2 linked regions of the Homo sapiens genome follow. The protein of the gene in region 2 interacts with the protein of the main gene of each other region in a pairwise test. Each region holds a gene or a part of one and is shown on either strand. Other genes may lie near its edges.

The links. Proteins that work in one complex are often made in the same cells at the same time.
Region 1: the proteins of RAP1GAP2 (region 2) and WNK1 interact in a two-hybrid assay, tested with the Homo sapiens proteins (one large-scale study listed by IntAct).

What each region holds. Positions count from the first base shown.
Region 1 is NC_000012.12:881,579-885,078, forward strand, and holds part of WNK1 (serine/threonine-protein kinase WNK1), read left to right. Parts: intron 1-113; coding exon 114-211; intron 212-332; coding exon 333-495; intron 496-1,364; coding exon 1,365-1,481; intron 1,482-1,816; coding exon 1,817-1,990; intron 1,991-2,195; coding exon 2,196-2,253; intron 2,254-2,542; coding exon 2,543-2,665; intron 2,666-3,070; coding exon 3,071-3,500. UniProt on the Homo sapiens protein: Serine/threonine-protein kinase component of the WNK1-SPAK/OSR1 kinase cascade, which acts as a key regulator of blood pressure and regulatory volume increase by promoting ion influx.
Region 2 is NC_000017.11:3,030,438-3,033,937, reverse strand, and holds part of RAP1GAP2 (rap1 GTPase-activating protein 2), read right to left. Parts: intron 3,017-3,500; coding exon 2,940-3,016; intron 1,528-2,939; coding exon 1,519-1,527; 3' UTR 1,489-1,518; intron 547-1,488; 3' UTR 1-546. UniProt on the Homo sapiens protein: GTPase activator for the nuclear Ras-related regulatory protein RAP-1A (KREV-1), converting it to the putatively inactive GDP-bound state.

The DNA of each region.
Region 1 (3,500 bases), on a different chromosome or scaffold from region 2:
AGTGCTTCTAGGACGTAGTGGGGAGGGATAAGGAAAAAAATAAGTAGATTATTGGGGATAGTGAATGATAAATCTATTACTACCGAGATTTGAGTTATCTTTTCGATTCACAGAGTACTCAGGGAGTCTCTCAGGTTGCTCCTGCAGAGCCAGTTGCAGTAGCACAGACCCAAGCTACCCAGCCGACCACTTTGGCTTCCTCTGTAGACAGGTACGTAAAACTAGAATTCTCCTTCCTTGACTGGTAAATAAGACGGTATGAAACGCCAAACTGTCAGACCTTTAAATCTCATATTATAAACTGCACTTTTTTTTCTTTTTAAATTTCAAAGTGCACATTCAGATGTTGCTTCAGGTATGAGTGATGGCAATGAGAACGTCCCATCTTCCAGTGGAAGGCATGAAGGAAGAACTACAAAACGGCATTACCGAAAATCTGTAAGGAGTCGCTCTCGACATGAAAAAACTTCACGCCCAAAATTAAGAATTTTGAATGTAAGTATTCCTAATTTGTGAGTTTCATGTTGTTAAAGGAATTTGACACTGAAAAAGATTTTAGAGGTCATCAAATCCAAACCACTCACTTCATAAAATAAAGATAACTATCTGTGTGTGACAGATAATTTTTTTTTTTTTTAGACGGAGTCTCGCTCTGTCGCCCAGGCTGGAGTGCAGTGGCATGATCTCTTCTCACTGTGATTGCAGTGCCTCCTGGGTTCAAGCGATTCTCCTGCCTCAGCCTCCCAAGTAGCTGGGACTACAGACACGTGCCACCACGCACGGCTAGTTTTTGTATTTTTAGTAGAGACAGGGTTTCACCATATTGGTCAGGCTGGTTTCAAACTCCTGACCTCAGGTGACTCACCTGCCTCAGCCTCCCAAACCACTGGGATTACAGGCACCCAGCCAGATAATTTATATAGTACTCTTCTCATTTCATGCCCACAGTCTCTTTGACTTAAATATCACATTTTTAGAAAAATGAAAAGGTAGTTCATAAAGCTATGATAGGGCCAGCAGTTAATATCATTTAAATATTTCTTAAGGCTTAGATGAATTGATGAATGTATAGGATCTTATAATTAGCCAAATGATATTCTTACATTCCATATTTCTATGATAAAGCACTACTTATCTTTTAGAAAAAGAATAGAGAGTTTTAGTAAGTAGCTCAAAGGCTAACGTCTTCTCAAAGATTTTTCTTGCTACCAGTTTAAGAGACAAAGTACTAGTGCTCCAAGGAACAGCGATAACACTATGCTTCCTTAGACATAAAGTCAAGTGCTAATCTGCATTGCTTTTCTGAAATTCAGTAATAAAGCTGAATATGGTCTTTGGAGATGATGTACCTTTTTTCTTTTTAGGTTTCAAATAAAGGAGACCGAGTAGTAGAATGTCAATTAGAGACTCATAATAGGAAAATGGTTACATTCAAATTTGACCTAGATGGTGACAACCCCGAGGAGATAGCAACAATTATGGTACGTCTGCATTTGGAGTTCTAGGTTTTTCCTTAGTACTTGATCTTAATAGCCATTGCTCTAGGCAAATATGCCATATTTTATAATCCATGTTTTTTTAAAGTTATGCATTTACTTCAATGTGAATAAAACTATCACACCCAACCTGTGATTTAGTGATGTTTTTGTCTAGGCTATGTCTAACTAGATATTGAAGTTCTTAAAAAGAGAAGAGCTAACTTGAGTACAAAATAAATAAAAATATAGGTAAGTATGCAGATAGGACAGAAGTCATAAAAGTGACATAAAGTTTGAGAAATGACACTAATTAGACTGACATCACATTTCTTTTACAGGTGAACAATGACTTTATTCTAGCAATAGAGAGAGAGTCGTTTGTGGATCAAGTGCGAGAAATTATTGAAAAAGCTGATGAAATGCTCAGTGAGGATGTCAGTGTGGAACCAGAGGGTGATCAGGGATTGGAGAGTCTACAAGGAAAGGATGACTATGGCTTTTCAGGTTCTCAGGTAGGTTCACCACTCCCATAGTGAAACTTTGTTGATTTAAAATATTTTCATAGTTCTAAATTTGCTATGCAAAATGTCCAGTGATATCACCTGACACCCATGACCGACAACAAACTTTTATGTTCTCTTCACATGTGGCAGTTTGCTTTGCCTAGTCATTGAGATTGCATTTGAGAATGTATTTAATCACTTTTGTTTGTTGTAGAAATTGGAAGGAGAGTTCAAACAACCAATTCCTGCGTCTTCCATGCCACAGCAAATAGGTGAATTTATTTTCTTTCCTTGTTTTTACCTTTGACTTAAGAAGCCATTAGCCGAGGGTGGTGGCAGGCTTCTGTAGTCCCAGCTACTCAGGAGGCCGAGGCACGAGAATCGCTTGAACCCAGGAGGCGGAGGTTGCAGTGAGCTGAGATCGCGCCACTGCACTCCAGCCTGGGTGAGAGAATGAGACCGTGCCTCAAAAAAAGCAGTTGTATGTGCCAATAATGAAGTCTAACAATATTTATAATAATAATGCTATTAAGTTACGTTTGTTTGTTTGTTTTTGACCAGGCATTCCTACCAGTTCTTTAACTCAAGTTGTTCATTCTGCGGGAAGGCGGTTTATAGTGAGTCCTGTGCCAGAAAGCCGATTACGAGAATCAAAAGTTTTCCCCAGTGAAATAACAGATACAGGTAAGGGATTGATTCTGCCACATTGTTATGTAAATTCTACAGTGCCTCTGCTATGTTGAAAGCTTAATCATAAAGCAGTAATTTATGATGACACAGATAATAAAAAAGAATAGAAAACTGAAGTTATAACCAACAGATAAACATATGGGAGAGGGAAATAGATGAAGAATACAGAGAATTACAGAAAAAGCCAAGAAGCACGGCCATACCAAGATATAGTCTGTATAATAGATATTGTAGTATGTGTTTATTTCTGCACTTAGTACTGTTGTCTATGTTTTAAGATTACTCCATATTTTTTATCAAAAACAGATATTTATAGGAGCTGACTTAGGCTAGCAGACAATCTTTTGAATCCATCCTTTTAAAATCAGCTGATTCTTATCTTTTTGTATTCCTTTGCAGTTGCTGCCTCTACAGCTCAGAGCCCTGGAATGAACTTGTCTCACTCTGCATCATCCCTTAGTCTACAACAGGCCTTTTCTGAACTTAGACGTGCCCAAATGACAGAAGGACCCAACACAGCACCTCCAAACTTTAGTCATACAGGACCAACATTTCCAGTAGTACCTCCTTTCTTAAGTAGCATTGCTGGAGTCCCAACCACAGCAGCAGCCACAGCACCAGTCCCTGCAACAAGCAGCCCTCCTAATGACATTTCCACATCAGTAATTCAGTCTGAGGTTACAGTGCCCACTGAAGAGGGGATTGCTGGAGTTGCCACCAGCACAGGTGTGGTAACTTCAGGTGGTCTCCCCATACCACCTGTGTCTGAATCACCAGTACTTTCCAGCGTAGTTTCAAGTATCACAATACCTGCAGTTGTCTCAATATC
Region 2 (3,500 bases):
AGAGCTCCAGAGCTACGGGGGCAATAGCGCCGAATTTTATCAGGATGGCCTCAAGGATGCTACGAATCTTGGCTCCTGGGAACATGGGGCCTCCACCACCGAGTGCGTTCCTGGTAGTAAAGCCTGCCACGTTCAGGAAGGCACTGCCCTGTGGCCAAGACCCTCACCGAGGCTCTGCTCCCACCCCCTACTCTGTCTCTGAGGCAGACCAGCTCCCCAGTCACTGCTGAGCTCCCCCCAGATCCCCCTTTGCCCGACACTTTTCCTCTCCAGGATGAATAGGATGATAAAGGACCCGGACATCACACTGGGAGGTCAGGAGCAGGAGGAACCTGAGGAAGGAGGCCTCGTCCAGAGATGGGAGGGGCTGGGAGGGCATGTAGGTGAGGGCGGAGGCAGGGCTGTGGCCAGACTGGGACACCTGGACCAACAGCACATCTGTGGGCACGTGGCCATGGGGCAGCAGGGCTGGGACTGTCAGGGTCGTGGACGGCACTCCCAAACTGCTGGTACAGGAGCCTTTTCCAGGACAGAAGAGGGGATTCCCTGAGGAGACAAGGAGGAGGCGGCGATGAGCGAACATTCCGTACAGGAAGGAGGGGACGACGCGGACGTCGGGAGCAAGGGGTGGGGAACACGCCTGCCCATGGCTACAGCTCACTGGATACACTCAGGAGCAGGAGGGCACCTGATGTAAGGGTGCCCCACCTTGCGTGGCCCGAGAAGCTGCGCATAGCCACGGCTTTGGTGGGCAGTGGCGTCCAGAGTGCGTGATGGGAGCCGGGGGTGAAGGTCCATATGCCCATTTGTCTTCTGCTTTTTCATAAATCAGGTTGAACACAGAGTGGGTTCGGTTGTACCCCTCCTCTTGGCTCCAGCTGTGACTCTGACCCCTGAAGCCCCATGTGGGGAGAGGGCTGGGAGCTCAGATGGGTCTCTGGTGACTTCCCCAGCAGAAATCCAGGCCTTGATGGGGGCGAGCTGGACCCACGGCCACTCTGCTCAAACCACGTGCCCCCTCAAAGCAGGCAGGGGAAGAGGCCTCCTGGGGTGGTCCCTCACAGTGCTGACTCCCGACAGGGAGGGAGAACACACCTCAGCCCAGGGCCTCCGCCAAAGACACAAGGAGGGAACAGCTGCCTGAGGGCAGGGGAGCAAGGGAGCCCTCAGGAACTCCTCCCTCCTGGGTCAGAAGCGGGCTTGGGCGACTCCCCTTCTGCCTGCGGGAACCAGACCCCATCGGTGGAAGGGAGGCCTAACTAGTACGTCTAGTCCAGTGTCACTGGGAACCCCCTTCCCATCCGCACACAGGCCATCTGCCCCTCCTTCCCCATTGCAGGTCTTCAGGGGCGAGTAGGAGACTCTTTGGACATCCCCAGCTGGCGGCATCTCTCCGGCCATTCTGAGGTTACAAGGCCTCTAGTTCCCTGATCTAAAAGAAACACACGTCCCCCCTCACGGCCACAGCAGGACATTCACTCAACCCACCTTGGACAGGCGAAGGACTCCACTTTCACATTAGTGACCCTGTTTCAACAAAAATCCATACAGGAGTTTAAATAACCAGACAGCACAGGTCCCTTCCACGGCGGCTCTGTGCACTCAGCTCTCAACAGTCTGGTGAGCTCAGGAAGGGATTCAGGACCCCAGGAACAAGCACTTCCCACCTCACATCTGGACCTGGAGTTCTCGATAGTCTGGCGAGCTCAGAAAGGGACTGGGGGACCCGGGAACCAGCCCTTCCCACCTCACATCTGGACCTGGAGCTCTCGATAGTCTGGAGAGCTCAGGAAGGGATTCGGGACCCAGGAACCAGCCCTTCCCACCTCACATCTGGACCTGGAGCTCTCGATAGTCTGAAGAGCTCAGGAAGGGATTCGGGACCCAAGAACCAGCCCTTCCCACCTCACAACTGGGCCTGGAGCTCTCGATAGTCTGGAGAGCTCAGGAAGGGACTGGGGGACCCAGGAACCAGCACCTTCCACCTCACATCTGGACCTGGAGCTCTCGATAGTCTGGTGAGCTCAGGAAGGGATTCGGGACCCAGGAACCAGCCCTTCCCACATCACATCTGGACCTGGAGCTCTCGATAGTCTGGAGAGCTCAGGAAGGGACTGGGGGACCCAGGAACCAGCCCTTCCCACCTCACATCTGGACCTGGAGCTCTCGATAGTCTGGTGAGCTCAGGAAGGGATTCGGGACCCAGGAACCAGCCCTTCCCACCTCACATCTGGACCTGGAGTTCTCGATAGTCTGGCGAGCTCAGAAAGGGACTGGGGGACCCAGGAACCAGCCTTTCTCACCTCACATCTGGACCTGGAGCTCTTGATAGTCTGGTGAGCTCAGGAAGGGATTCGGGACCCAGGAACCAGCCCTTCCCACCTCACATCTGGACCTGGAGTTCTCCATAGTCTGGCGAGCTCAGAAAGGGACTGGGGGACCCAGGAACCAGCACCTTCCACCTCACATCTGGACCTGGAGCTCTCGATAGTCTGGAGAGCTCAGGAAGGGACTGGGGGACCCAGGAACCAGCACCTTCCACCTCACATCTGGACCTGGAGCTCTCGATAGTCTGGTGAGCTCAGGAAGGGACTGGGGGACCCAGGAACCAGCCCTTCCCACCTCACAACTGGGCCTGGAGCTCTCGATAGTCTGGAGAGCTCAGGAAGGGACTGGGGGACCCAGGAACCAGCACCTCCCACCTCACATCTGGGCCTGGCCGTGTCCAGAGGTGTAGCTCCACCTTGGGAGTTGTGGCAAAGGTGGCTGGAACCCGGAGACACGGCCTGCACCTGCTGGAGCCAGACGTCCCCAGAGCTTCCCCTGCCTCCTTCGGGGAGCCCCCTCTGGGATGTCTGAACCCTCTTCCTCTGGCCTCAGGAAGGAAGGCTGGGCCTCTGCAGAAAGTGGAGTGTGGGGTGTGGGAGGCGCATCCTTACCGCACCAGAGCTGGCATGGCTGAGCTTGTCAAAGCGGAATTTCAGGTTCGATCTCGGGGAGTTTCTGCTTTTGGCATCTAAGAAAAAGAACGGCCATGAAAGGAGGGTGGAGCTGTGGAGGCCACTGGGGCTGTGTGTGGGGACTGGCTAGGGAGGCCAGGGGAAGGGGGCCTCCTGCCCTCCACCAGGACCAGGCACCCTAGCTGACCTGTGCCGACCCACGAGAGCCAACTCCTAGATTATAGAATTGTGGTGAGCTGGTTGTTCAACTCAGGCCATTTTTTAAAGTTGAATTATATATAAGCTTACAGTTCAATAAATTATATTCAACAGAGGTAATAAATACTTGAAATTCGTCACTTCCTACTTATTTTTCTCTGTTTTACGATTATCTGTGCTCTTACGTCTATTGTATCCATGTGGTAGAAACACCCTAAAGATGGTGGCTACAGTATATCTTCTTCCCAAGTCCACGTTCGAGGACATCACGTCAGTAGCTTGAGATCAGCCACGACAAGTGTATTTACACCACAGAAACTGGTACATGCTACAAATCATGAC